Homo sapiens: one gene and its partners. The protein of the gene in region 1 interacts with the protein of each later gene in a biochemical or structural test. Each region holds a gene or a part of one and is shown in the gene's direction. Other genes may lie near its edges.

Region 1 (8,238 bases):
TAATTTGATATTGATGGAATACATTGATGATGCCTGGCCTAGAAAGCCCCTCTGAGCTCTGGGGGTTTCAAAGGGGGATTTATTAGCTCTCATAATGCCAATCCAAAGGCAGCAGACTTCAGGATGTACCCGATCCAGGAGCTCAGTCTCCACTCTGGTAGCAGTTCCAGCCTGAGGAACAAAGAACAGTTGCCCCAGTCTCATTGGCCTGAATTGAACATACTTGGGCTGAGCCAGTTCCTGCAGTGAGGGAAGGTCTGCATGGGTGCCTGAAGCAAGCACTGTGGCAAGGCAGGGGAATTACCCTTCACCTAGAAGGTTGGCCTCTGGAGCAGAGGGGAGATGTGGCAGCTAACAAATTGAGGGTACTATTGGCAACACTGTTGGTTGGCAGGTAACAAGGTCTTCCCCTGCCCCCTCCTGGACTGAGCAGCCGCTTAGAGCTAGCTTGAGAGCACGTGGGGCCTCTCCTCATACAAACCTAGGTGGGAGCAGGCCTCGGACCATTCCCTAAAGTTGTGGCCTGGGAGTAGGCATTGTGTGATAGAGTGATGGCAAAATGTCTGTGTATCCCTGCCCCTTGCCTTGTGACTTTACACCTCCCATCGAGAGGTGGAGTCTATTCCCCCAGCCCTTGCATCTGGTCTGGCCTAGTGACTTTCTTTGGCTAATAGGGTGCAACAGAAGTGACCACGTGCCAGTTCTGAGTCTGGGCCTCAGGTGGCCTTGGAGCTCCCACTTGTTCTCTTGGAACCTTCGCCAGGCCCCATGTGAGCATGACTAGGGTGGCCTGCTGGGATCAGACACCATGTGGAGGACACCATCTCAGAGGCCATCCTAGACTAGCAGAGCACAAAATGAGAGCGCAGCCGGACAAGAACCTCCCCCAACCCTGCTGTCTTATAGATTCATGAGCAACAATAAATGTCTGTCATTCAAAGTATCAAGCTTTGGGGTGGTTTGTTCCAGAGCAACAGCTAAGGGGCACACCCTTAAGAGCCCAGGGCCTTCACACTGGGGGCCCCTGCCTCCCCTCCCTGCACAGGCAGCTAAGGGGCACACCCTTAAGAGCCCAGGGCCTTCACACTGGGGGCCCCTGCCTCCCCTCCCTGCACAGGCAGCTAAGGGGCACACCCTTAAGAGCCCAGGGCCTTCACACTAGGGGCCCCTGCCTTCCCTCCCTGCATAGGCTCTTTACAGAGAATCAAGCTACTCCCCCAAAGGGGGCCAGCCAGAGTGAGATATGGCCCAGCTAGTGCTGACAATCCCTCTCTGAACCTTTCCTGGCTGGACTGCCTGGGGAGTGGACATTTTGCCTGAGTACAGGCTAGTCAGAAGATCCTTGTTGATAGCATCTGAGACCCACTTGGGCAGGGGCTTTCTTTGGAAATAGTGAAGAAACAGATTTAGTAGCTGGTGTGAGGCCCAGGAACCTGCATTCAGCTGGTTTCGACTTGTGGGACTATGGGAGCACCAAGGTGCCGGTCTTTTCTCTAAGCTGCAGGCGTTCAGGGCCCAAGGGAAGCGCTATTTGTGAAGGAACAAGTTCAGTGCAAGTGAGGCTTGGAGAAGACTTGAAAGCAGCTTTTGTTTTTGTTTTTGAGGCAGGGTCTCGCTTTGTCACCCAGGCTGGAGTGCAGTGACGTGATGATAGCTCATACAGCCTTAAACTCCCGGGCTCAAGTGATCCTCTTGCCTCATCCTCCCTACTAGCTGGGACTGCATGCACTTACCACCATACCCAGCTAATTTTTTATTTTTAGTAGAGATGAGGTCTCACTATGTTGCCCTGGCTGAAGGCAGTCTTTGAGCATGAAACTGGTATTTATAGAGACTTTTTCAACATCACATCTTCAATATATTACAGTTACAAACAGAAAACCCTAACTTTTCCTTAGGCTGTAAAATACAAATTACTAATATTACTTTTTCTAAATCTGATTTTTTTTTTTTGAGAGAGAGAGGGTCTCATTCTGTCAATCAAGCTGACGTGCAATCACAGCTTACTGCAGCCATGACCTCCTGGGCTCAAGTAATCCTGCTGCCTCAGCCTCCTGAGTAGCTGGGACCACAGGGACATGCCACCACACCCGGCTAATTATTATTTGTGTGTGTGTGTGTGGAGAGGGGGTTTTACCACGTTACCCAGGCTCATCTATAAACTCCTCAGCTCAAGCAATCCTCCCACCTCAGCCTCCGAAAGTGTTAAGATTACAGGTGAGAGCCACCATGCCCGCCCTAAATCTGATCATTTTTAACCACCATTTTGATTAATCATGTACGGCCCCATTTATGAACTGAAATTCTCTTAAACATTTTCAACTGCATTTATACACGTAGAATCTAATTTTATTTTTTAGCATTTCAGTTGTCTGCCTTATCAAGTATTAATATTTAAATAATTCTCATAGATATATTAAATGTCTTCATTTCTTTTAAACTTTTAAGTTCTCTTTGCTCCAATTATAATCACAAACTTCGGAAAATGTTATACCTTTCAACTTACAGTCGCTATCAAAAATCAAATACTTAGGGCAGGGTGTGATGGCTCATGCCTGTAATCTCAACACTTTGGGAGGTCGAGGTGAGCAGATAACTTGAGCCCGGGGCTTCAAGACAAGACTGGGCAACATGGCGAAAGCCAGTGTCTACAAAAAAAAAATACAAAAAAATTAGCCAGGCATGGTGGCACACACCTGTGGTCCCAGCTACTCAGGAGGCCAAGGTGGGTTGATCATCTAAACCTGGGGAGGTCGAGGCTGCAGTGAGTGAGTCATGATTGTGCCACTGCACTCCAGCCTGGCTGACAGAGTGACACCTCGTCTCAAAAAAAAAAAAAAAAAAAAAGACTGGGTGCGGTGGCCCACGCCTGTAATCCCAGCACTTTGGGAGGCCGAGGCGGGTGGATCACGAGGTCAGGAGATCAAGACCATCCTGGCTAACACGGTGAAACCCCGTCTCTACTAAAAAATACAAAAAAAAAAAAATTAGCCAGGCGTGGTGGCGGGCGCCTGTAGTCCCAGCTACTTGGGAGGCTGAGGCAGGAGAATGGCGTGAACCCGGGATGCGGAGCTTGCAGTGAGCCGAGATCGCGCCACTGCACTCCAGCCTGGGCGACAGAGCGAGACTCCGTCTCAAAACAAACAAACAAACAAACAAAAAACACAAATACTTAGATATTTTACATGAGAATTACATTTATCTATCAGATACTCTACCATGCCAGATTTCCTTACAATTACGAAAAATAGCAAACACATATTGTTTGTAAATGCAACACAAAAACGTTAATGCTCTGGTTTCTATCTGCCTTGTCATTCCGTTATTTGACTCCATTTTCGAGGTTAGAAACTCACTGTAAGGTGGCCGGGCGAGGTGGCTCACACCAGTAATCCCAGCACTTTTGGAGGCCAAGGAGGGTGGATCACCTGAGGTCAGGAGCTCGAGACCAGCCTGGCCAACATGATGGAACTCCATCTCTACTAAAAATACAAAGAAAATTAGCCGGGCGTGGTGGCAGGCGCCTGTAATCCCAGCTATTCGGGAGGCTGAGGCAGGAGAATCACGTGAACCCAGGAGGTTAGAGCTTGCAGTGAGCCGAGATCGCGCCACTAAAACAAACAAACTCACTGTAAGGAAACAATGTAACCCAAGGCATTTGGGGTGACCTTCACGTTGCCTGAGGGTGCCGAGGGACCAGAGATGCTGGCCATGGACTAAGGTCTGGGTATTCTCAGGCAGCAGGGACAAGGTGGGCTTTTTTCCTGGTTGCTAAACCCACGTCAAAGTCGAGCTCAGGGACTGGAGCTCAAGAAACCCACCGCCCATTCTCCAGTCCGACCGGGGACCTGCATGCACCTCTGCCGTGCTGCCCTGAGTCCTCCAATCCTCCACACTCTTCCTCTGTTATGTACACGTCTCCACCCAGGCCTGCAAAAGTCCCAGCTTCCTCGCAGGGGCAGGGACCCGCACGCCGGCCCAGGGCTTGGCACGCGGGGATGCTGAAACAGGGCCAGGCCTGGTTTCCAGCCGATCGTCAGAGTCCCAAGGCCCAGCAACCTTCCTCACAAAGGCCTCGTTAAGAGGCGAGGAAACAAGAGCCGGGAGAGGGGCGCGGAACGGCGGGCGGGACGAACGACCAGCTCCGCGCCTCCGGCCAGCTGCGTCGAGCCAGGGGCACCGCGGCTGTTGTGCGGCTGGAAATCTAGGAATGGGAAGGTTCGGGGCCTGCTCGGCTCCGGAGGCAGCTGGCGGGTCGTCCCTGGCGGCGTTGGAGCGGTCAGTGGCAGCCGGGCACGGGCGACCGGGTCGCCCGGGTCGCCCTCAGACCGTGACTCCCGAAAAACCTTGCGGGCGGGGCGCGCCCGCGCCGTCTCTTGCCGGAAGGTGCGAGTTAGTGCGCTCGATTGTGGGCGGGGGCGGAAAGAGGCGCGTTTTAAAGTGGTAACAGATGGTTTTCTTATCCAATAGGATTAAAAAATTTGTCCTTACCCGGCCGACCGCGGAAGTAGAGTAGGCGGGCGGCCAATGGGGACATGATGGGGGGCGGAGCCGAGGCCTCCGAAGCGGAAGTGGGTTGCTGTTGAGGCGGCGGCATCTTTCTCGAGGAGCTCTCCTGGGCGGCTGAAGAAGGAGCTTCTTCTCCGGAGTGCGCCGGCGGTGGCGCCTGCGGACCTAACTAGCTCCAGGTTAGGCCGAGCTTTGCGGGAAAGCAGCGGTAAGTCAGGGCCTTGCAGATGCGAGGTTTAGGCAGCTTCGCGGCCTACAGAGGCCTCGGCCCGCGCCTCTTGGGGGAGCCGCGCTGCGCGGCTTGACCCAGCCGAGGCTTTGCAGCCCGGGACCTCGAGCCAGCTCTGGTCGCTCGCACTGCCGTCCGCGCGGGCGCACCGAGCCCGGCTTGGCGCGGGCAACAGAAGTTAGGAGGTCTGCGTCTGGGTCTCGGCTCACCCTGGGGGGCCGCGGCCATGGGGCTTAGTTCCTAGCCTAGGAAGGGAAACTGAGACTCTGGGAGGGGCAGGAACGCCCCCAAGGTCACTTGGAAAGTCGGGCAGGATGTGCTGTTAGGGGGAAGACCCGGGCAGGGTTTTTGTTCCCCGCTGACGACGCCTCCTTTGTGTGTTCGCGCCGCCGCCCCGCCATCGTGGGGCCTGCGAGTTTGCCGGGGTGCGTGGGCCGCGTGGCGGGGCCTTTTGTAGGTCGGGAGGATCTGAGTACGGGTGCGGGCCTGACCGTGGGGGCGCCGAGGTCGCAGTCTAAAACTTAGTAGGGCCTCGATTTCCGGGCGCGCTTCCGGGCCCCGGCTGGTGGTTGGTGGAACGTGCGACTGTGAGGCTTGCGGCCCAGCCCTGCACCGCTCGGGCCCTTCACCGCTCTGGCGCGCCTATAGACAGGTGTATGAAGATTCTCACGACCCGAAACAGAGTTGCTAGTAAACACCGCTTTTCCGCCTTTGATCCATCGAGGGAAGAGGGAAAAGGATAGAGCTTGGGCAAGCCGTTTTGGTAGGGATTTCAGCTTTTGTCTTTCACTTGTCAGTTCCCATAGACGTTCACAAACTTAATAATCTTCGTTCTGTTTCTGCACCAAGTTCTTGAGCCAGACGTAGGGTCTCAGCTCTGGAGCCTGGCTTAGACTGTCCAACTGACTGGGGAGACTGAGGTCCAGAAAAGTGAAGTGGTCTGCCCAAGGTCACATAGCCAGCTATTTGGCAGCAGATGAGGTTAAGTCCTACCTGCAAGATTTGGGTTTTGAATTCATTGACCAGGAGTTTTGGGACCACTGTCAATAAAAGAGACATTGAAGGGAATCTTTTGTTACTTTCTTGGTGATTTGCTTTTTAATGGACAAGGACATATTGGGTTCAGTTTTATCTGTGAGTTTGAGGTGAAATAGAGGCATTCGAGTAGCAAGATATATTGCTGGCTTTTGTATTGCCTGAATTTGAGCTTCCAAAAATCTTACTTTAACACATCGTTTATTGATCTTTTCTTGAATTACTACCTTTGTAAGGACCTTTTGTAAACATTGTTTTTCTAATCTTCATGAAATCTTAATGCCATACGTAAACTATTTCTTTTTATATAATGTATGCACATCTGTGCTTTGTACATAAAATGAGTAAGATTTTTCACTCTCCTCAAGATCAAAGTAGCGTATTTTTGAGGTCTCCTGTATGCCAACCTTTCTGCTTGGAATACAGCAGTAAACAGTCGTGGTCCTCCTGTAGCTGGGTGAGGATGGAGGGAATAAGAGATAACTCATTTTATTGTGTTTTGCAAATACTGCCTTTTTTTTTTTGCAAGGTGAAGGTTTATAGCAAGGATTCATCGAGCAAGTCTGTAAATGCCAGCCATTTTTCCAACAGCATGTGCTCACTTTGTGTCTCTTGTGTCACGTTTGGGTAATTCACAATATTTCACACTTTTTTTTTTTTTTTTTTTTTGAGGTGGAATCTCACTCTGTCACCCAGGATGCAGTGCACTGGCGTGTTCTCGGTCTCACTGTAACCTCTGCCATCTGGGCTCAAGTGATTCTCCTGCCTCAGCCTCCGGAGTAGCTGGGATTACAGGCATGTACTACCACACCCAGTTAATTTTTGTATTTTTAGTGGAGACGGGGTTTCACCATATTGGCCAGGCTGGTCTCGAACGCCTGACCTCAAGTGATCCGCCTGCCTCGGCCTCCCAAAGTGCTGGGATTACAGGCATGAGCCACCATGCCCAGCCCCAAACCTTTTCATTGTTACATCTGTTATAGTGACCTGTGATCAATGTTTTGGGTTACCATGAATAGCACTCATATAAGACAGTGAACTTAATTGGTAAAAGTTGGGTGTGTACTAACAGCTCCACTGACTGGCAGTTCCCAGTCTCTCTCCTCAGGCCTCTCAATTCCTTGAGACACAATATTGAAATTAGGCCAGTCAGTGACCCTACAGTGTCCAGGCAAAAGGAGCAGTCAGTTGAATCTCTCTTACTTTAAGTGAAGTTAAGAAATGTTTATCCTTAGTGAGAAAGGCGTATCAAAAGTTGAGATAGGCCAAAAGCTAGGCCTCTTGTGCTGAATGACAGTTAGCCAAGTTGTGAATGCAGAGGAAGAGTTCTTGAAATTAAAATGCTACTCCAATGAATACATGAATGATAAGCCAAACAGCCTTATTGCTGATAGGGAGAAAGTTTTAGTGGTCTGGATAGAAGATCAAACCATCCATGACATTCCCTTAAGCGAAAGCCTAATCCGGAGCAAGGTACTAACTCTCTTCAATTCTGTGAAGAGTGAGGAAGCTGCAGAAGAAAAGTTTGAAACTGGCAGAGGTTAGTTCATGAGGTTTAAGGGAAGAAGCCACCTCTGTAATGTAAAAGTGTAAGGTGAGGCAGTAAGTGTTGATGAAGAAGCTGCAGCAAGTTATGCAGAACATATAGCTAAAATAATTGATGAAGGTGGCCACACTAAACAACAGACTTTCAATGTAAATGAAACAGCCTTATATGGAAAAAAAAATACTATCTAGGACTTTCATAGCTAGAGAAAGGTCAATGCCTGGCTTCAAAGGACAGTCTGATTCTCTTGTTAGGGGCTAGTGTGGCCAGTGACTTAAGTTGTAACTAGTGCTCATTTACCATTCTGAAAATCCTAGGGCCCTTAAGAAGTATGCAAAAATCTACTGTGTGCTGATCATTGAAACAGGAAAGCCTGTATAGTAGCATATCTGTTTACAGTATGTTTTACTGAATATTTTAAGCCCACTATTGAGATCTACAGCTCAGAAAAAAAGATTTCTTTCAAAATATTACTGCTCATTGAGAATGTGCTTAGTCACCAAAGAGGTCTCATGGAGATGAGTAAGATTAATGTTAACATCTGTTCTGCAGCCCATGGATCAAGGAGTAATTTCAACTCTCAAATCTTACTTAAGAAATGCATCTTGAGGCTGAGCACAGTGGCTCATGCCTGTACTCGCAGCACTTCGGGAGGCCAAAGCTGGTGGATCGCTTGAGCTCAGGAGTTAGAGACCAGCCGGGGCAGCATAGTGAGACCACCCCCTCCACTGCCAGTCTCTTAAAAAAAAAAAAAAAAAAGGGCGGCAGGGGGAAAGAAAGAAATGCATTTTGTAAGGCTACAGCTACATAGATTGTGATTCTTCTGATGGGTATCAACAATGTAAATTAAAAACCTCCTGAAAGGATATACTATTCTAGATACCATTAAGAATATTTGTCTCCAGGCACGGTGGCTCAC
Region 2 (7,546 bases), on another chromosome or scaffold:
CAATTCTTCTGCCTCAGCCTCCTGAGTAGCTGGGACTACAGGTGTGTGCCACCATGCCTGGCTAATTTTTGTATTTTTAGTAGAGACGGGGTTTCACTATACTGGCCAGGCTGGTCTTGAACTCCTGACCTTGTGATCCGCCTGCCTTGGTCTCCCAAATTGCTGGGATTACAGGCATGAGCCACTGCGCTCAGCCCCATGTGGTGATTTTTTATGGCAGGAATAAATTTCTCAGTCGCTTATTGTATAAAATTGAATTTTATACAATTAATTATTATCTAATTAACTGCTTTTCTCCTAGGCGACCACCTTCAGTGACACTTCACTTGGGGGGACAGACTTTTTGTTTTGAGTTGCTATTGGGATAAATAAAAGATGCGATAGTTCATCTTTTATTTTGACAATAGAATGGCAAATGAAGGAATGCATTTACTTAGACTTTTACTTATACTGATAATTTTAACACTCAAGACTGATTAACTTTGTTTTACTCGGTTTCTTTTGTAATGGGTATACAGTAACTTTGAGGATGATTACACTGTTTTAAGAAAACCTGTTAAGAATGCTAAAAAGAATATTGTGGTGGAAAAATACAGGTTACAAGGTTTATGTTTCTATTTGCACTATATGTGTAATTAAATAGTTTGGTTCAAGTAAAGCAAATGATTTATACAAAGAGGGATAATTTTTTTCTTTTTTATCTCCTTAGGATAGCAGTGAGATTCACTTCAAAGTGAAAATGACAACACATCTCAAGAAACTCAAAGAATCATACTGTCAAAGACAGGTTCGTCCATTTTGGTATTAAGTACAATGCTTTGTCGTTAATTTTTTTTTTTTTATAGAAGATTGTCAGAAGAAAAATCCTGTTTTATTATTTTCACCATTAGCAACTCAAGGAAAACACTCTATCATTTCTTGTACCCTGCTTAACTGCTTTTTTTGTCTTGTGGCCCATTTTAAAGTTTGAATTCGTAAGATGGGAACTAGTTTGAAAAGTAACTCAGAATTGTAAAAGCGAGCTCAAATGAATGTTTCTGTCTTGATGGCTTACCAGTATATATAGCAAAAAAGGCAAGTAATTTTTTGGTGATTACTATGGATTGTTTTTGTACTTCTAATCATGAGTGTTTAGCCATATGTTAAATTTAAGTAGTAGTATTATTAGTATATTATCTCTCTTTTTTTTTTTTTTTGAGATGGAGTTTGCTCTTGCTGCCCAGGCTGGAGTGCAGTGGCACGATCTCTGCTCACTGCAACCTCCGCCTCCCAAGTTCAAGTGATTCTCCTGCCTCAGCCTCCCGAGTAGCTGGGATTACAGGCATGCACTACCACGCCCAGCTAATTTTGTATTTTTAGTAGAGATGGGGTTTCTCCATGTTGGTCAGGCTGGTCTCGAACTCCCGACCTCAGGTGATCTGCCCACCTCGGCCTCCCAAAGTGCTGGGATTACAGGCGTGAGCCACCAGGCCTGGCCTTATAAAATAGGTTTTGAAAATAAATGTAATTGGAATTAATATGAGACAACCAAGATATAGTTTAAGTGAAATTATGATTTAATAAGCAAGAAATATATGTTTAATCAGTCTTAAATTAAATTATAGGCTGGGTGCAGTGGCTCATGCCTGTAATCCCAGCACTTTGGGAGGCTGAGGCGGGCGGATCACCTGAGGGCAGGAGTTCAAGACCAGCCTGGCCAACATGGCAAAACCTTGTCTCTACTAAAAGTACAAAAATTAGCCAGGCATGGTGGCGCATGCCTGTAATTCCCAGCTAGTCGGGAGGCTGAGGCAGGAGAATCACTTGAATCTGGGAGGCAGAGGTTGCAGTGAGCTGAGATCATGCCACTGCACTTCAGCCTGGGTGACAGAGCAAGACTCCATCTCAAAAAAAAAAAAGAAAAAAGAAAAAAAAGAAAAAAAATTGAATTATATTACATAATATTAACTCAGGTATTGTAAATTTTATTTTCATTTATTTATTTATTTCTTTGAGATGGAGTCTTCACTCTGTCGCCCAGGCTGGAATGCAGTGGTGTGATCTCAGGTCACTGCAACCTGTGACTCCCTGGTTCAAGCGATTCTCCTGCCTCAGTCTCCCGAGTAGCTGGGATTACAGGCATGCACCACCACGCCCGGCTAATTTTTGTATTTTTAGTAGTGGCGGGGTTTCACTATGTTGGTCAGGCTGGTCTCGAACTCCTGACCTTGTGATCCGCCCGCCTTGGCCTCCCAAAGTGCTGGGATTACAGGCATAAGCCACCGTGCCCGGCCTGTAGATTTCATTTTTAGAAGGTTTGCTTTTAACAGTTTAAATTTGTAACTCACATTAAAAAAAACTTATTATAAGAAAGAGAAACTAGGTGTTAGGATAAGTAAAACAATAAGCATTTTTGTCTCTTCTGTTTTTGTAGATTTTAATTGTTTAACTTAATAAAATCACATTAATTGGGGTTCAACTACTTCACATTTGTAATAACTTTGGGTGTTAAAATTGAGATGAAATTCATCAGGGGAAAGAAACATTTATTGAAATCTCAATTATGTGTACTGTGCCATAGGTATTTAAGATACATTATTGGCCAGGCACAGTGGCTCACGCCTCTAATCCCAGCACTTTGGGAGGCTGAGGCAGGCGGATCATGAGGTCAGGAGTTCGAGACCAGCCTGACCAACATGGTGAAACCCCTGTCTCTACTAAAAATACAAAAATTAGCTAGGCATGGTGGTGCACGCCTGTAATCCCAGCTACTCGGGAGGCAGAGGCAGAAGAATCGTTTGAACCCAGGAGGCGGAGGTTGCAATGAGCCGAGATCACGCCATTGCACTCCAGCCTGGGTGGCAGAGTGGGACACTGTCTCAAAAAAAAAAAAAAAAAAAGATTCATCGTCATTTAATTTTCATAACTCTGAAGAAAATTCATATAGTCTCTACGCCCCCCATCTGTAGGCCAGGGAATTGATTTTTTTTTTTTTTTTTTTTTTGAGACAGAGTCTCACTCTGTCGCCTAGGCTGGAGTGCAGTGGTGCCGTCTTAGCTCACTGCAACCTCCACCTCCTGGACTCAAGTGATTCCCAATGCCTCAGTCTCCCGAGTAGCTGGGATTACAGGCACCTGCCACCAGGCCTGGCTAATTTTTGTATTTTTTTTTGTATTTGTATTTGTATTTTTTTTTTTAGACAGGGTGTTCCTCTGTTGCCCAGGTTGGAGTGCAGTGACACGACCTTGGCTCACTGCAACCTCCACCTCCCGGGTTCAAGTGATTCTCCTGTCTCAGCCTCCCGAGTAGCTGGGATTACAGGCGCGTGCCACCTCGCCAGGCTAATTTTTGTATTTTTGGTAGAGATGGGGTTTCACCATGTTGGCCAGGCTGGTCTTGAACTCCTGACCTCTAGTGACCCACCCGCCTCGGCCTCCCAAAGTGCTGGGGTTACAGGCTGAATCACTGCGCCTGCCCCGTAATTTTTGTATTTTTAGTAGAGATGGAGTTTCATTATGTTGGCCAGGCTGGTCTCAAACTCCTGACCTCAAGTGAGCCGTCTCTCCCCTTTCAGCTGTTTTTGTTGAAGAGTGATTAGAAAAATGTATACTAATATATTTTGTAATATTTATGGTGCTATCTGTGCCATCCAGGTTTATGGTAGATGAGCTAGCTAGCCATTTGCGCTTTACCAGATTTTATGATAATGTTGGCCAGGCTGGTCTCAAACTCCTGACCTCAAGTGAGCCGTCTCCCCTTTCAGCTATTTTTGTTGAAGAGTGATTAGAAAAATGTATACTAATATATTTTGTAATATTGCGCTATCTATGCCATCCAGGTTTATGGTAGATTAGCTAGCTAGCCATTTGTGCTTTACCAAATTTTATGATGTAATCTGTTTAAAACCAATTTCGCCAGTATAGTTGGAAGCTAGTGAGGGTGCACGTCCAGTTTCTGATCTGATCTTTTATTCTAGCTTACAGATTTAGGGCAAAGTGAATCGAGTAGTGGTCAAGAGCATAGGCTTAGAAACAGGTTTGGGCTTAAATTCTTGGCTAGCTCCAAGCCTTAGGTTCCCTAGCTGTAACATGAAGATAAGGTGGTAATACCTACCTTCCAGGGTTGTTGTGTTTAACACTTATGATTATGTATGTAAAGAATTGGTACAGGGAGGGCCTTGCAAATAGTTGCTACTCAGTACAGTATATAGTATTTATGATTGAATTAGCTTGTCTAATTTTATTTTCTATGTAGTGTTCTAAGGCTTTCATGCTTGCTTTTTGTGCATCAAAGTTACCATTATGTTTTCTAATATTTGTGTGTGTATGTATGCATTATTATTATCTTTACCTTTTTAGGGTGTTCCAATGAATTCACTCAGGTTTCTCTTTGAGGGTCAGAGAATTGCTGATAATCATACTCCAAAAGAAGTGAGTATACTTTTCTCCTGAGTCAAGAAAAAATTTAAATTCTCCTTTGAGCAGTTTGGTTCACTGGTGTTAAAACTGCCCTTTTCTTGAATATTCTCTGATTTAAATGGCATATCATTTGTTGGAGAGAAGAAATAATGTTTTGGGTTGAACTTCCCCTATAGTGCCTTTAAAAGTGCCAATAAAAAGGGTGGTAGAAACAAAATGAGTACTGAAATTGTCATAGGTCACATGCTACATCCTTTTTGAAGATAGACAAATGTTCCTCAAATTTGGTAAATTTCTGGTATACTTTCATGGTGATGGTAACATTAATGGCTGGATTTTCATTTTTGACCTATTTTGAGAATGTTAATACAGAAGCATAGTGTATATTAATATATTTGGCTCTGTCATCTTGTTTTACCCTATTTTTTTATGCTTCTCTGTCTTCATTTGATTTTTTTATTCTATGAGCAGTTTGCTTTGCTTTTATATTCCACCCATCTTCCCTCTATAGAGATATCTCAAAGTAGTGTGTGTGTGTGTGTATGTGTGTGTGTATCTATATACATAGATTCCCTTCATACACAGAGTAACATTACTGATATTTCTGATAGTGGGAACAATATAGGGTTATTAACTTTTTATTTTGAAAATATTTCAAACTTACTGAATTGTGAGAATAGTGTAATACTCTCCTGTATAACTATTCCTTAGATTCACCAATTAAAATTGCACAGCATGTGGGCCAGGCACGGTGGCTCATACTTGTAATCCTAGCACTTTGGGAGGCCAAAGTGGGTGGATTGCTTGAGTCCTGGAGTTCAAGACCAGCCTGGGCAACATGACGAAAACCCGTCTCTACTAAAAATAAAAAAATTTGGCCAGGTGCAGTGGCTTATGCCTGTAATCCCAGCACTTTGGGAGGCCGAGGTGGGCGGATCACGAGGTCAGGAGTTCGAGACCAGCCTGGCCAGTATGGTGAAACCCCGTCTCTACTAAAAATACAAAAATTAGCCGGGCGTGGTGGCATGTGCCTGTAGTCCCAGCTACTCGGGAGTCTGAGGCAGAAGAATCGCTTGAACCCGGGAGGCAGAGGTTGCAGTGAGCCGAGATTACGCCACTGCACTCCAGCCTGGGCAACAGAGCGAGACTCTGTCTCAAAAAAAAAGAAAAAAAGAATTAACTAGGCTTAGTGGTGCATGTTTGTAGTCCCAGCTACTTGGGGGGCTGAGGTGGAAGGATCACTTGAGCCCAGGAGGTCGAGGCTGCAGTGAGCCCTGGTCATGTCACTGTGCTCCAGCCTAGGTGACAGAGTGAGAACCTGTCTCAAAAATAAAGTAAATAAAATAAAATAACATTGTGCAGCATTTGATAGCTGGGATTGGTGGTGCACGCCTATAGTCCTAGCTGCTTGGGAGGCTGAAGCGGGAGGATCACTTGAGTGAGCCCAAAAGTTCGAGACGAGCCTGGATAACAGAGCGAGGAGTCCCCTGTCTCAAAAAAAAAAAAATATTATGTTTTTCTAGTATGACTACTAGAATGCAGTCATAGCTCACTGCAGCCACAAATGCCTGGGCTCTAGCAATCCTATCACTATCAGCCTCCTGAATAGCTGGGATTACAGGCATGTGCCACCATGCTCTGCTTTTAAATTTTTTGTAGAGATGGAGTCTCCCTATGTGCCCAGGCTTTGATCACTTAGTTTAAGTGTTGTCTCTTTTTTTTTTTTTTTTTTTTTACTTTGTAGTTAACTGTTTTTCCTGTTACAATTAAGTAATTTGAGGGGACACACTTTGAAACTATGCGAATATCCCCTTTCTCATCAAATATTCCCCTTAGGTTTAGTGTCCACCACCTTCTTGAACACTTCCTTACTTTCTGGCACAGTAAGAAGTTCCAAACTCATCTTTTACTTTCCTTTAACTTGGCATAATCTCTGGGACCATACAGTAGATATCTAATACATTTTACTGACACATGCCTTACACATTCCTTGTAATTAAGAGATTATTTTTTCAGAGGAATGTTGGTGCAGTGGGAGACAGTAGGTCTTTAGGGAGTGACCCTCCTGTGCTGTTGTTCACTTGTCTCTGTTAATGTACTTCTTGAAGTTTGTAGCTTTATATTCTTTATAGCTCAAGGACTCATGCTGTCTTCCTGTTTTGAAGGTTTCTAATAACACTTGGAATTTTATTCCTTGCAGTATTTACCATGCTATATGGGCAATTAAAATTGTTTTAAAAGCATCTTTTTTTTTTTTTTTTTGAGATGGAGTTTTGCTCTTGTTGCCCAGGCTGGAGTGCAATGGCACAATCTTGGCTCACCGCAACCTCTGCCTCCCGGGTTCAAGCGATTCTCCTGCCTCAGCCTCCTGAGTAGCTGGGATTACAGGCATGCACCACCACGCCTGGCTAATTTTGTATTTTTAGTAGAGACGGGGTTTCACCATGTTGGTCAGGCTGGTCTCGAACTCCCGACCTCAGGTGATCTGCCGCCCCCCCAGCCTCCTAAAGTGCTGAGATTACAGGTGTGACCCACTGCACCTGGCCTAAAAGCATGTTTAATAATTATTTAAATATTCAAATATGTTCCACAACCAAGATAGCTTAACACTACTAGAGCCATTCTGATCACTTTAAAATCCTAAATTCACATGTGTTATGTTTAGATTTCTTAACATACTTTATTTTCATATTTAAAATTCTGCACAAAAATGTTACCTATAAAATTTAAAACTTTTTGGTCAGGCACAGTGGCCCACGCCTGCAATCCTAGCACTTTGGGAGGCTGAGGCGGGCTGGATCACTGCAGGTCAGGAGTTGAGACCAGCCTGGGCAACATGGCGAAACCTCATCTCTACTAAAAATAGAAAAAGTAGCCAGGTATGGTAGCGCACGCTTGTAGTGCTAGCTACTTGGGAGGCTGAGCTGGGAGGATTGGTTGAGCCCAGGATGCTGAGGTTGCAGTGAGCTGAGGTTGAGCCCAGGAGGCTGAGGTTGCAGTGAGCTGAGATTGTGCCACTGTACTCCAGCCTGGGCAATATAATGAGACCCTGTCTCAAAAAACAAAAACAAACAAACACCAAATTAGATATATCCTATTAAACTATCACTTAAACTATTAAATACATGTTTCATTAGATTTAAAAGTTC
Region 3 (7,546 bases), on another chromosome or scaffold:
TTTTAATAATTGTATTCTGCTGCTAGAGAATTGGAAGGCTGTCAGTTCCCTTTATTTGAATGCTTACTATGTGCCAGAGACTGTGCTGTACACTTGACATGTATCATTTCACTTGGTTGTCATAGAAACTGTGGATGGAGGTAGTGCCACTTGAAAACTGAGCTTTGGAGAGAGAAAAAAAGATTTTTCCCAAGATCATGTGGGAAGTGAGTGGTGGCACCCAGACTTGAACTTCAAAGCCTTGCTGCTTTTACCCAGCATAGTTAAGTCAAAGTCTGAAATCTGTTTCCTTATTGCTTTTTCTTTTTCTTTTTTTTTTTAAATGCGGTCTTGCTCTGTCACCCAGGCTGGAGTGCAGAGGCCCAATCATAGTTTACTGCAGCCTCGAACTCCTGGGTTCAGGCGACCCTCCTGCCTCAGCCTCCCAAGTAATTGGAATTACAGGCATGAATCAGCCTGCTTGGTCCGTTATTGCTTAACTGTAACATGGACCAAAGAAGCAGCTAACCCTGTTAGTTAATTCTTACTAGGAAGAGAAACCGCACCAGCTATTTAAAAAAAAAAAAAAAAAAAGCAAAACAAAAATGAAAATACCAAGGTATACTGGAAAATAACATTGAGCTTAGAAGGAGACCTGAGTTTGTACCTGGCTCAGTCACCCAGCTCATTTATCACTTTCTTAGGAAGGCCTTTCCCTGTCACACCCTCCTTCTTGTTTGTCTCTATTAGAGCACTGAACTCATTGCCATAATTACCTTATTGCAGTGATTCTAAGGTGGACATCTTTCACATTTTAACTTTTCTAAAGTGTGGATGCATTTTACAATTGATGGTGTTTTAAAATAAATTGGCAGCATTTTTTCTTAATTATTGGTACTTAAAATAAGGATGTGCTGTACAGTTGATGACATCTTAGATTTGATTAAGTGCATATTTATTTTTGTGTGTTCCCACAAAAATGTTTACATCATTCTCATGGTTTTAAATATCAGATATATGCAATGATTTTCCAATTTCTATCCTTTTTTAAGGTCCACCCCTGTATGTTGAACCACATTGTTTCTTCATATCACAAGGATTACAGATTCAACATATCTACTCTCCAAATCAGTTTGTCTTCTATTGTTCTCTATCTCAGTGAATGGCATCCACATTCGTACATTTGTGGAACTAAAACATGAGATGATCGCCCACCTGGGTTTGAATCCCAGTTCCGCCCTATAGTAGTTACTCAAGCATGCAGTGAAGTATGTCACCTTAACTATTCACTTGTAAAATGGGGAACATAATAACACCTATCTCTGAGGATTGTTAGAATGACTAAGACATTGAATAAATGTTAGCTGTCCCTAATCTTCATCATACATATCTATGACTTCTCTCCTTCCTCTGCACATGTAATTCATCAACTCCTGTGATAGATAGGCCCTTCAGAGTATCTCACATCTACCACTTCTATCTTGTTGCCACTTCTCCAATCTAAGCCCCCATTTTTCTTGCCTATGCAGCAACTAATATTGTAGCTTCTCCTCTTTCCCATGTCTAATCCAGTCACAACCATCCATTAAATCAGAACATGCCACTTCTTAAGACCTCCCTCACCCCCTACCTAATGCATTTGGTATAAAACACCACATCATTAATGTGGTCTGTATGGTTGTCTGTTTCCTGCCTGGCTTCTGCCCACATTTCCAGCCTCATCCTCTGCCACTCTGCCTCCCAGTATCACTCTTTTCCTCCAAAAGTAACTCCTACTCATCCTTTAGATTTCAGCTTAAATGTCACTTCCTCAGAGATGATTATTGATCTTCCAAACTAAATTAAGTTCTTCAGTTATAGTCCTTTATATTGAATGTATGCCTTTCTTCTTTGGGATGATCAGTTTCTCCCAAACTGTGGCTAAAGAAGTGAAGTAACTTCCACAAGGCCAAAGAGTGAGATCTATTAGAACTGGAATTCTCTCTGTTAGAGGAAAAAAAAAAATCCAAAAAAGAGAAAAGAAGAAAAATGGAAAGAACTGGAATTACAACCCAGGGGCGGGGTGAACTCTAAAGCTGTGTCCTTTCTGTGATCTTTGCTGCCTTGAGGGCAGGAAACAGGGTATGAATCAATGTTCTAAGTTTCAAAACATGGCCTGACTGCTGCTCGTTTATTTCCCATTTCAAGTTGTCCTTAAATGAGCTGGGTGCAGTGGCTCATGCCTGTAATTCAATACTTTGGGAGGCCGAGGCAGGTGGATCACTTGAGCACAGGAGTTGGAGAACAACCTGTTCAACATGGCGAGACCCCATCTCTACAAATAAAATTAGCCGGGTGTGCTGGCACATGCCTGTAGTGCCAGCTACTCGGGGTAGGAGTGGGGGCCTGAGGTGGGAGGATCGCTTAGGCCCAGGAGGTTGAGGCTGCAGTGAGCTTTCGTGCCACTGCACTCCATCCTGGGCGACAAAGTGAGATCCTGTCTCAAAAAAAAAAAAAAAGTTATCCTGAAGTATTATTCTTTCTGAGCCTTCATGCTCCCTCAATAGATTGTAACCTGTTAAAATAGTACCTGTTTTCTGATATATTATCAACCTAGCATTTACATAAATTATCTTACATACAGTAGGTACTCATTAAATAGTTTTTCTCTTAGGGATGTTAAAGAAAAACAGTATTTTTTTTCCATTTAATCTTTTCAAGGTCTGAAGCTGTCTCATGGAGGAATTGAGTACCTTATTCTTTCTACCAGTCAATGACAGAGTACAATTTATGTTTTTATATTTTGAATAGAACTGCTTTAAATGTTTTTAAAGCTAATAGTTTGCATCTTAATGGATCATTACCCTTGTTTCATTGGGAAAAGAAGGAATTAACCTTACATATTTTTGATTTCCTTCAGGAATTGAGTGATCTACAGCGCGATCCACCTGCTCACTGTTCAGCTGGACCTGTGGGAGATGACTGTAAGCCTTGCTCTATTTCTGGGATTATGCTACCTTTAAAAATATAGGTTTGAACATTTGTTAATGACTCCAAAACTCCTTTGTTTGTTTCAGTGTTCCACTGGCAAGCCACTATTATGGGGCCTGTAAGTATGATTCATATCTATGAAATTAACCCCCTCAGCCATACTTCATTCTTGCCATTTCACCTTTGATCAGATGTTTGTGATGAAGGTTGAATATTCTTGTACTTTGAATCACCTAGGAAGCAAAATATTATTAAGGATTTACAATGATTTTCCAAAGCATTGGTGGCAAATATTTCCTGGGATCACTATTATGTTTTCCTTTGCTGAATCCTAGATCATTACACATAATGGAGTGCCACAGCTCGCAACCAGGCTGTGTGTTTATCTTTTTTTTTTTTTTTTTTAAGTCACAGAGAGTTAGTTGTAATTAACCATAATCATTCTCACATCCACAGTTTTGGTAGGTTAGAAATTAGTCTAATGAAGCCAATAATTGAATTCCTACAAGTAACAAGTGTCAGTTTGCCATAAGTTTCATCACTGTTCTTTTTTGTGAAAGAGAATCAATAAAATATTACAATGGGTCTGTCTTTACCTCCTTATAAATTTGCTGCTTTTAATTTTGTTGCATTGTCCTAAACACAAAATTATCTGCTGTTTGATAATTGGCTACTCTCAATACTTATTACTTTTGTTAAAATTATTTCTTTCAATACTTTAGAGGCAGTTACAAGACTTGAAACAGGCTTTTTCTTTCTATGAGCAAAAAATCTGATTGCATAAGAATGAGCACTGACAGCTCAAATCTACTTTCTGGGTGAGAGTACATAAGTAACATGTTTCCATGAACACCATTCTCTTCTCCCTGCCCTGAAAGAGCTTTATCTAGTGAGTTACAGAGTTTTTAATCATACGACCTTGTGTTTAACTTTAAAAAACACCAAAACTACTGAATTTCAAAGCAGTACTCTGGGCAGTTGTCTCAAATTATTGTTTTATTAAGTTTGTTTTTCTAAAAAGGCAAAATACAATGTATTTATATAACAACTTTCAATAAGAATCCATTTATTTCTGTTTGTTTTTAATTAGTTACTAAGAACCTTCAAAATACTCTCATTTAAAGGCCCACCCTTACCTTTTGAATTATGGCCTTTCACAAATATTTTTTAGGTGAATCACATGTAACAAATGGTTATAATCATGTTATTCATAACTCCCTTACTTTAGTAATGTAAATATTTACAGTACTCTGGACCATATCTGTCATTGTAATTTATCTTCATTTTCTATATTTCTTACAATTTTTGATAAACTAGAATTGTTTAAACAATATATATAGTAAGAATTATTATACAGGAAAATCCTCTAGCATATATGTGGAAACTTAACGAGAAAGTAATGAGTCTTGGTGTTATTACCAGAATGCTAATATAACATGATATATTTAATTAAATATGAAAGAATTAAAATAGAATTGTAGGTATAGTTTGCTAGCATTTTCTTTTTTTAAAATTTTTTTGCTTGTAATGTTATATTTTCTAATGGCTATAAAGAAACATGGTCAAATTTAAATTTCTCTAGTAAAGTTGATTCCCAATTTGATAGTAGCATGAATATATAATTTTGTTTTGGATTTTTTTGGGTTCTCTACATTATTTTATAAATAATTACTAAACGAAGATTTGGCACATAAATTGTGTAGCAGGGTCCTTAGCATTTTCTTTTCACGACAGCCTCTTCAGTTCATCTCCATTCTTGGTCATCAAGTGAACATCAGAACTTAAGTTTTACTATCCTCAACCCTTTTTCAAAAAAAATACTGATTACGGCTGCAGAAAATGATCTTTTCCCACAGCAGTCGTGTGTATACTGATCTTTAACAATTTGTACTCATAACCAGATTTGTTTGGACAAGTCACAGCACTGTGTGTGTCCTGTTTTTGTTTTGTTTTAAATTTTATGATGTCGGCATAGTTGTTGGAAAATCCTCCTTCGTACCTGCAGAGAAACCTGTTCTCAAAGTAAATGATTTGAACTTATGACAAAATGGTTGCATTTTTTTCATATTGGTAATATTTAATGAAATTATTTTAAACATGATGGCATTTTTTTCAAACTGATAATATTTGGGGGAAATAATTTTGTTGTTATAAATAAATATAGTAATCAAATGCTGATGCAAATCTTTTGTAATTTCAGCCTGATAGCGCATATCAAGGTGGAGTCTTCTTTCTCACTGTACATTTTCCGACAGATTATCCTTTTAAACCACCAAAGGTATTTTTATTTTTATGATTGATGTGACTCCCATGTAAGAGATTTTATTCTTTATCTAGAGCTCATTTGATTATCTAGAGCTCATTTGATATGTCAAAGACTGTGGGGAGGTTAGCATTTTCAAACTGTTTTGTAAAAACTACTGAATCTAAAATCTGATTTCTTATTGAAATACTGTATTAAGTCTATAAAACAAAAGTCAGTACGTGTCATGCTATAAATTAAATTCCTTGCTTTTCTTTTCCTTCTTATTGGATATGTGTAGTTTGGGACGTTTTTATGATTAAGAGTCAGACTTTTCTATTCATGGGATTATCCTTACAAAGTTGATCATTCTTTCTCTGTTTTTTTTTTTTAAGTATTCAATAAACATTCACCGAGTACCTACTGTGTTCTTCTACACTGGGGAATCCGAAAGTAAATATGAAGCAGTCCCTTAATTTAGTATGGTAGGAGAGAGAAACACATGTTAGATTTAGATTTGCTCTAAAGAGGAAACAAATGATGGGGATATCAGGGAGGGGAAAAGTGGGCAGATTTTGTCACTCAGGATATAATTATTTTAAATAGTTAAAAACAGATTAACATTGTATTTATGAAATGGTATGACAACTCTTGTGGAAAATTAGGATTCTTAATGGATTTCTTAGCTGAGACGCCTCAACTTTGCCCTGAAACAGCGTCAGCACCCTGGTTTTAGATCCAAATGTTACTTCCAGGTATCACCAATAATCAAATTAAGAAAAGGATTACTTCTACATATGATGGAAGCCATGGTTAATTACTTTAGATGCTGCTCAACCAGTCATACCGGCTACTAGAGACTTATTTATTACACTGTCCAAAATACTCTTCAGTTCCTTTGAGGGCAAAAGAAGGAAGCTGACTTGTTTGTGTTCACATTCTCACTAGCTAGAACTGTGTGTAGCACAAAGTAGATAATTATTTGATTTGTGTTGATGACTTTTCTCCTCTAAAGTTATGTAAAGTTGAGGATATTTTACCCTAGAGCAAATTGGTTCTGTTTTATTCATAGTTGATTCAAAGGTGATTGTCATATTTTGTTGTTTTGTTTTATGTTTAGATTGCTTTCACAACAAAAATTTACCATCCAAACATAAACAGTAATGGAAGTATTTGTCTCGATATTCTGAGGTCACAATGGTCACCAGCTCTGACTGTATCAAAAGGTAATTTCATTGATCAGGTTTGAAACAGTTGATAACAGTGAGACAGGAAAAATACAGCAGAATTACCTATGGACTAAAGTTTTAAAACAACAATCAACTGTGCTTTCTCCTGTTTTGATTTTGTTTTGCTCTCTTTGCTCTTATGTTACTATGGCTTTTGGCAGTTAGCTTTGGTTGAGGGGAGTGTGGATGGACAAATCTAAATGATGAAATGAGAAAAAACCTTAAAATATCAGAGCTAGAAATTTGGGGATAAACCTATTGATATTTTATCCTTTTAGCTTGGGTGTTGTCTTTTAAAAAAGAGAGAGTGCCCGGGCACTGTGGCTCATGCCTGTTATTCTAACACTTTGGAAGGCTGAAGTGGAGGATTGCTTGAGCCCGAGTTCGAGACCGGCCTGGGCAACATAGGAGACCCCATCTCTGCAAAAGAAGAGAGAGAATAAGAGATAGTAAAAGGAAGATTTTGGGACTGGTTGTCCCATTCATTAAATGGAAATGTTGACAATAATAAAGCTTTACAGCTGTTTTACTTCATCCAAGAATAAAATACCAGATTTGATTGATAAATGATTTAAGATGAAAGACATTTCACACTGTAGGATAATGCAGTACATATAGCATGTTAGTCTAAACTTCGAATAATCAGTAGCATCATTATAGTGACTGACACAAGATCTGTGCTGATTCTCAACTTTTACAGGGGTATAGCTGTTCTTTGCTGGATTATCAGGTGTATACATAGGCATCTCAAGCCATTTTATTTCATTAGCCACTGCTACTTACTGTGCTAGCACTCTTAATTTATGTCTTGTTTCTCTGAAAGAAGAGAACCTGACAGTTGGAAAATACTGTTTAGGTTAGAAGTAGCTGCACTGAAGCAACCATCAAGTTTTCCGTTTTTATAAAATTGAAGAAAATGTTTCTCTTGAAGGGATTTATGGAAGCAATCTGTACTCATTTTTTATTTTTAATAATTGCTACTTGAATATACAGCATGTTTTTAAAAGTAATAAGGTTTATAGGAAGCAGGGTCCACAGCCGTAGCTCTTTCAAATATTAGATAAATAATAGCTCTTTCAGTTCAATTATTTATGAACGATAGTTTTTCTGACCTAAGATGCTCATC

The links. Proteins that work in one complex are often made in the same cells at the same time.
Region 2: the proteins of RNF4 (region 1) and SUMO1 form a complex in vitro, tested with the Homo sapiens proteins (5 studies listed by BioGRID, with this or other methods).
Region 3: the proteins of RNF4 (region 1) and UBE2D1 form a complex in vitro, tested with the Homo sapiens proteins (12 studies listed by BioGRID).

The regions. Positions count from the first base shown.
Region 1 is NC_000004.12:2,464,542-2,472,779, forward strand, and holds the start of RNF4 (E3 ubiquitin-protein ligase RNF4), read left to right. Parts: upstream 1-4,564; 5' UTR 4,565-4,717; intron 4,718-4,911; exon of another isoform or gene 4,912-5,501; intron 5,502-6,445; exon of another isoform or gene 6,446-6,568; intron 6,569-8,238. UniProt on the Homo sapiens protein: E3 ubiquitin-protein ligase which binds polysumoylated chains covalently attached to proteins and mediates 'Lys-6'-, 'Lys-11'-, 'Lys-48'- and 'Lys-63'-linked polyubiquitination of those substrates and their subsequent targeting to the proteasome for degradation.
Region 2 is NC_000002.12:202,207,598-202,215,143, reverse strand, and holds part of SUMO1 (small ubiquitin-related modifier 1 isoform a precursor), read left to right. Parts: intron 1-709; coding exon 710-787; intron 788-4,337; coding exon 4,338-4,409; intron 4,410-7,141; coding exon of another isoform or gene 7,142-7,276; intron 7,277-7,546. UniProt on the Homo sapiens protein: Ubiquitin-like protein that can be covalently attached to proteins as a monomer or a lysine-linked polymer.
Region 3 is NC_000010.11:58,358,460-58,366,005, forward strand, and holds part of UBE2D1 (ubiquitin-conjugating enzyme E2 D1), read left to right. Parts: intron 1-2,878; coding exon 2,879-2,942; intron 2,943-3,035; coding exon 3,036-3,067; intron 3,068-5,149; coding exon 5,150-5,227; intron 5,228-6,311; coding exon 6,312-6,417; intron 6,418-7,546.